2 separate regions of the Homo sapiens genome follow, and region 1 is reported to be linked to region 2. Evidence: microRNA targets listed by miRTarBase, many of them from high-throughput screens and not tested one by one. Region 2 holds a microRNA gene; the other region holds the end of a gene's coding sequence.
Evidence for each region. The annotated mature microRNA hsa-miR-511-5p reads GUGUCUUUUGCUCUGCAGUCA and lies in region 2 at 1,078-1,098, opposite strand. An mRNA with a match to its seed (bases 2 to 7 or 8) in the 3' UTR can be bound and repressed. Matches are read on the target gene's strand: a 7mer-m8 pairs with bases 2 to 8, a 7mer-A1 pairs with bases 2 to 7 and ends in A, and an 8mer does both.

Region 1 (3,361 bases), not on the chromosome of region 2:
TATGTCTCAAAAAAAAAAAAAAATTGGTTGTAACATGTATGAATAGGAATTCATATCCCTAATCCACAAAGCTCTCAGACGCTAATAAAAGATGACTATATCAATATACAAATACACAACACAGAGGCAATGCAGAAAAGAAAAATGTAAATTGCCAATAAACATGAAACTTTTAACTCTCACTAGCAATTAATGAACATTTTAAAATAAGCAAACAAGAAGACATCACTCTCAGTTAACAAATTGTCAAAAATGGTACAGGTTAACAAGGAGGTGCTGAAACCAATACTCAGGTTCTTTTGGTGGAATTCAAACCAGTGTAATTTTTCTAGAAGGCAGTCTGGCTCAAGGAGATAATTAGGTAGGAGTGCAATTGTGTAATACAGGGGTTGTGATTCCAGACTTTTTAATAATATATATAAAAAACTACTCACAACTTGAGTATCCATCACTAAAGGCCCGTTTAAAGATTATTCTATGGGACGGGTGTGGTGGCTCATGCCTGTAATCCCATCACTTTGGGAGGCCGAGGCAGGTGGATCACCTGAGATCAGGAGTTTGAGACCAGCCTGGACAACATGGTGAAACCCCAGCTCTCCTAAAAATACAAAAATTAGGTGAGGCTGGGTGTGGTGGCTCACGCCTGTAATCCCAGCACTTTGGGAGGCCGAGGCAGGCGGATCACCTGAGGTCAGGAGTTCGAGACTGGCCTGATCAATATGGTGAAAGCCCATCTCTACTGAAAATACAAAAATTAGCCGGCTTTGGTGGCGGGCGCCTGTAGTCCCAGCTACTCGGGAGGCTGAGACAGGAGAATCACTTTGAACCCGGGAGGCAGAGGTTGCTGTGAGCCGAGATCACACCACTGCACTCCAGCCTGGGCGAAAGAGGGAGACTCCATCTCAAAAAAAAAAAAAAAAATTATGTGGGCGTGGTGGTACATGCCTGTAATCCCAGCTACTCAGTTGGCTGAGGTTGGAGAATCGCTTGAACCCAGGAAGTGGAGGTTGCAGTGAGCTGAGATCACGCCATTGCACTCCAGCCTGGGTGACAAGAGTGAGACTCAGTCCCAAGAAAAAAAAAAAAAAATTCTTCTGTGAAGTGCTGTGAGCACGAGAATGCCGGCTGACAGCCACCACTGCTGCCATCACCATCCACCTCCCTCCAGGGGCTTCATTCTTCACTTCATCGAGCTGCCTCCCCGTCCCTTGTCCCTACCCCTTGCCCTGCTTCTGCAGGAGGTAACCCTGCTGAGGGTCGGGGAGCAGGGCTGCAGGCACAGGGAAACTTCCTTCCCACTAAATGGGTAGCAGGGATGGGACAGGGAAGAGGAGTTGGAAGAGAGGAGAGAGATGAAAGAGGGAGGGGAAAAAAACCAAGAATAAAAATCATATCTAGAGGCACATGAAAAAATAAAAATTAAATATTAAAAAAATCAGGCCTGGCGCAGTGGCTCACACCTGTAATCCCAGCACTTTGGGAGGCTGAGGCAGGTGGATCATTCGAGGTCAGGAGTTCAAGACCAACCTGGCCAACATGGTGAAACCCCGTCTCTACTAAAAATACAAAAAATTAGCCGGGCACGGTGGCACACCCTGTAATCCCAGCTACTCGGGAGGCTTAGGCAGGAGAATTGTTTGAACGCGGGAGGCGGAGGTTGCAGTGAGCCGAGATCACTCCATTGCATTCCAGCTTGGGCAACAAGAGCAAAACTCCGTCTCAAAAAAGAAAAAAAAATTTAATTTAAAAAAGTTTTCTATGAACCCTCCAATAAGAGAGGTAAGCATACATATAAATAAGTGAATTGTGAGTAAAATAAGTGCATAATAAGCAATATCGCATAAAAATTGTACCATGAACTAGGCTCCATGCTGTTTCTTTTGAGAGGGTTCAGACCAAGGCGTTTCCCAGAAGAGGCAGGTCCCTTCCTGGGAATGACCCCTCATCAGCCTCAGACGGTTTCGTCTTAGAAAAGTTTGCCCTAAATCAAATGGTTTCTTCTCTATCAGAAACCACATATGTTAAAATGTGCCGCTGATTTAAAAGTTGAAGGCAGATGTTGAAGACTTCTACAGGCAAAACTAATCAAATCTGATTGATGTATTTTTTATAAGACATTGGAGAGCATTCCTTGATGTTGAGATTTGCACAGGTTTGTTGGAAGTGGGATAGACTAGAGTTAAGGGAACCTATGCGACAATAAGTCAGAAAATACGGGGTCAGAAAAAGCCAAGTGTCTGCTGGAATGGAAAGGAGGGGACACTCTGAAGAGATATTTCGGCTGGGCTCAGTGGCTCACACCTGTAATCCCAGCACTTTGGGAGGCCGAGGCGGGCAGATCACGAGGTCAGGAGATTGAGACCATCCTGGCTAACATGGTGAAACTCCGTCTCTACTAAAAATACAAAAACAAAATTAGCCGGGCGTGGTGGCGGGCACCTGTAGTCCCAGCTACTCGGGAGGCTGAGGCGGGAGAATGGCGTGAACCCAGGAGGTGGAGCTTGCAGTGAGTCGAGATTGTGCCACTGGACTCCAGCCTGGGCGACAGAGCAAGACTCTGTCTCAAAAAAAAAAAAAAAAAAAAAAAAAAGGTATTTCTAGGACAGAATAAACAAAAGTCAGTGACTGATTGAGATGGCGGGGTGGGCAATGGGGAAGGGATGTATAGGTAGACTCTTAAGTCAGAAGCCTTACTGAAATCAGCCAGAAAGAGCTGGGATCTTCTTCAATCGTGATCTCAATTAATGAAGGCCCTCACCTCCTAGCCCTTCAATCATCTCCACTCACCAGCAACTGTCTTCATCAATATCACCCTTCAGCAGGCAGCTCCACCGAGGCATCTTGCCCTGTCTCTTCCAGTAGCTCACCTCCCCAGACTTCCTCCACTAATCACCCCAGTGAGAATTCACCATGATCTCCCATTTTTAAATTTCTAATCGCTGAGCTGACCCTCACCATGCATCTGCTTCACCCATAGATGGAAAGGAAGCCACCCCATTTTCTTGTCTTTTCACGAGGGCCGCAGGCTGGGGATCACCTTGGTGGTACTTGTTTGACCTCAGTTCCAGGACTTGGATGGCTCAAGGCTGAGGGGGAGCATGGGAGGGGGTGGGGGGCAGGGCAGATGGCCGGCAGGGGCTGGGTGCAAGGTAGGGTACCAGTCCTCAGACTGGTGTGACAAAGCAAAGGCGCCTCCTGTGGAGGGCTGGGAAGGGAGGGCATGGCTGTAGGGGTGAGGGAAGCAGGTCACTGGTGGTGGTGGTGCTGCGTAAGAATAGGGGCAAGCAGTGGACTCTGGCAAGAAGCTGGAAAAGGCGGCAGGAGACAGATGGGCCAGAGGCTGAAGCAGTGAGCGCTCTTG
Region 2 (3,414 bases):
AATTCAGTTACAGGCCAGGCACGGTGGCTCATGCCTGTAATCCCAGCACTTTGGGAGGCTGAGGTGGGTAGATCACCCAAGGTCAGGAGTTCAAGACAAGCCTGGCCAACACAGCGAAACACCATCTCTGCTAAAAATACAAAAATTAGCTGGGCGTGATGGCACACATCTGTAATCCCAACTACTCGGGAGGCTGAGGCAGGAGAATCACGAACCCAGGAGGCGAAGTTTGCAGTGAGCTGAGATCGCGCCATTGTACTCCAGCCTGGGTGACAGAATGAGACTCTGTCTCAATAAATAAATAAAATTCAGTTACAACTTTTTAGATATTTTATTCTATTTTATGAAAACTTTAGTATAAGACGCTACACTGAATAGCAAGGAAGCCCAGATAGAGCCGTGAGGACCTAATATAAACATCCCTTCCAAATGTTGACTTTCTAGCTTGGATTCCGGTTTTGCCATGTCTGCAAGGTTTCTGTATCCTCTGAATATCTTTTTCCTCAACTATAGCATGTGAATCATGACACCTACCTCAGAGGACTGATTGGGAAGGTAACATTTTTATTTAGGTCAGAGGATCTCCACAATGCCCAGACACCGCCGCACACTCAGGAAATACTAGCAACCAGCACACAGAAATATTGCAGTAATATCATTAAGTTTACCCCATCAACTATCCACAAAACCTCTGGCGGCATTCCAACAGTTACACCTAAGCTGTAATGTTACTTATCTTTCAATTCTAATAGTTGAGGCACTTCAGATCCCATAGATCACTTACCTGAGGGAATAACAAAAGAATTTAAAGTGGTGTTGCCCTTTTTGCAAATATAGCCCAGTTTCTGAACACATTCCAGATTTTCCCATTTAGCATTTTTTCCAGGATTTAGTGACACACAGCTTTTTCCAGGTTCAGCTGATGGACTTCCTTCGAGGAAAAGGAAAAGTTAAAGTGGACTATTATAGCTATTCCCAGCAGATAGCATCCCTCCCACGTCTCCTCATGTCTTCATCCTGGGGATTCAATGGACCACCATTCTGTCTTTTGCTACACATTCACAAAAAAATATTTACTGACTGCAGAGCAAAAGACACGATGGGTGTCTATTGTTTTCTTATCGTTGGATCATTCCAATACTTAGAATGTTGATAAAGCAAATATACTTCTTTGAAACAACCCTTTCCCCCATTATCAGCTAATAAAGCTACACCTTAAAACTTGAACAGTTGTCACAACGGATTACATTATCAAAGAGAGGTACCTAATGAAAAGAATGCATGATTATGCCGCCATAAAAAAAAATGAAATCATCATGTCCTTTGCAGCAACATGGATGCAACTAGAGGCCATTATCCTAAGCGAATTAATGCAGAACAGAAAGCCAAATAGCCATGTTCTCACTTCTAAGTGGGAGCTAAATACCGAGTACTCATGGACACAAAGATGGCAACAACAGAAACTGGGGACTATGAGATGGGGGAGGAATGGAGGGTAACAAAGTTTGGAAAACTAGCTACTGGGTTCTATGCTCACTGCCTGGTTGATGGGATGGATCATTTATATCCCAAACCTCAGCAACATGCAATTTACCTAGGTATGTAACAACCGTGTACATGTATCTCTGAATCTACAAGTAGAATTTATTAAAAAGAAAGAATACATGATGTTCCAAACCTGCCACACTAAACATTATTAGGGCAGGGCACGGTGGCTCACGCCTGTAATCCCAGCACTTTGGGAGGCTGAGGCGGATGGATCAACTGAGGTCAGGAATTCGAGATCAGCCTGGCCAACATAATGAAACCCCATTTCTACTAAAAATACAAAAAAATCGGCCGGGGAGCTGGCGGGCACCTGTAATCCCAGCTACTTGGGAGGCTGAGGCAGGAGAATTGCTTGAACCTGGGAGGCAGAGGTTGCAGTGAGTGGAGATCACACCACTGCACTCCAGCCGGGGTGACAGAGTGAGACTCTGTCTCAAAAATAAAAATAAAAATAAATGGAGGAGAAAAAGCTAATGGGAGAGCTAGATGGGCAGCATGCTGTGCTCCCAGAACTAAAACTGTCTCAATATCTTCAACTCAGCCTACTGAAGAAGACTTTCAGCAGCTATGCCTTATCCATTTCTTAGTGGAAACTGATTAAAGAACCAGATAAAGTCAACGTTGCTAAAGGGATGAATGTAGGCATTGATACATTTCACATGCGTTTTGCTACTCTAATATATGATTTAAAAACCAGTACTCCCCAAACTAGCTTCACCTTCCACCTGAAGACAGGGTGAATGAGCCACATTCTGTTAATACCTATGCTTTGTGACCTCCAATGTGTATGTAACCTGTGCCTGAATGTCACTTCCTTTCCTGCAAGACGGAAATCATATTACCTGCTCCACAAAGTCTGGAGCAGGTAATAACCTAAATAACCTTTTTAAAGTTTTGGTGGTATTCTTTGTGTGGTAATTAAATGATTTTTTTAAAGTTTATTTAACTACCACACAAAGAAAATAATGGTTAGTAATAAGCATTAAGTTATCTTTTTTTTTTCTTTTTGAGATGGAGTTTTGCTCTGTCACTCAGGCTAGAGTCCAGTGGCGTGATCTCAGCTCACTGCAACCTCCACCTCCTGGGTTCAAGCAATTCTCTGCCTCAGCCTCCTGAGTAGCTGGGACTACAAGTGCCCACACCATGCCCAGCTAATTTTTGTATTTTTAGTATAGACGGGGTTTCACCATCTTGACCAGGCTGGTCTTGAACTCCTGACCTCGGGATCCACCCGCCTCAGCCTCCCAAAGTGCTGGTATTACAGGCGTGAGCCACTGCACCTGGCCAAAGTTATCTTAAAGTTAGTAATAAGCATAAAGTTATCATAAAGTTAGTAATAAGCATAAAGGTATCTTAAACATTTGCTGATACTGTAACTAAAATAACAGGATAACTGAACTAACAGATAAGGTATCAGCACTAAAAAGAAACTTTCAAACAAATACATTTCTAGCTCTAAGTTATTAATTGATGTGCTAATTAGTAAATCATATTACACATTTATTTATCAATACAATACCTCTCTCAACTTTGAGACATCAACTAGTGGTTTTGATGTTTACCATAGTTATTATATATTTGAATTCACACTTGTACATCATTTATGCAAAACATCCTCACTTCAAAAGTGAATATATTTTAATATTTTCATTACTTGGTAATTATTCAATTGAATGCTTGACTGAACAAATATGAAACCGATTTTTAATTTCCACAAGATCTCTAATTTTAGTTGGAAGAAACTCTCATACTATTTCGCAAGGTGATTTAATCTTGCACCTACTTCTTAGGAATTGAAGTTTAATTTTAGAAAGCATTTGCTTCCCTTTCTTAATCATATTCCACTTTCATTCTTTACTCCACCCA

Region 1: the mRNA of PROP1 is a reported target of hsa-miR-511-5p. Seed matches in the 3' UTR shown: 8mer at 3,003-3,010.

What each region holds. Positions count from the first base shown.
Region 1 is chr5:177,989,651-177,993,011 of GRCh38, forward strand. PROP1 (PROP paired-like homeobox 1) reads right to left here. Exons shown (of 3, transcript NM_006261.5): 3 at 2,585-3,361. The coding sequence ends at 3,059. Among named protein-coding and RNA genes, the nearest start is that of PROP1, 4.9 kb to the right of the region's middle.
Region 2 is chr10:17,842,806-17,846,219 of GRCh38, reverse strand. It overlaps MIR511 (microRNA 511), which reads right to left and starts at 1,113; the gene lies at 1,027-1,113. MRC1 (mannose receptor C-type 1) reads right to left here. Exons shown (of 30, transcript NM_002438.4): 6 at 785-931.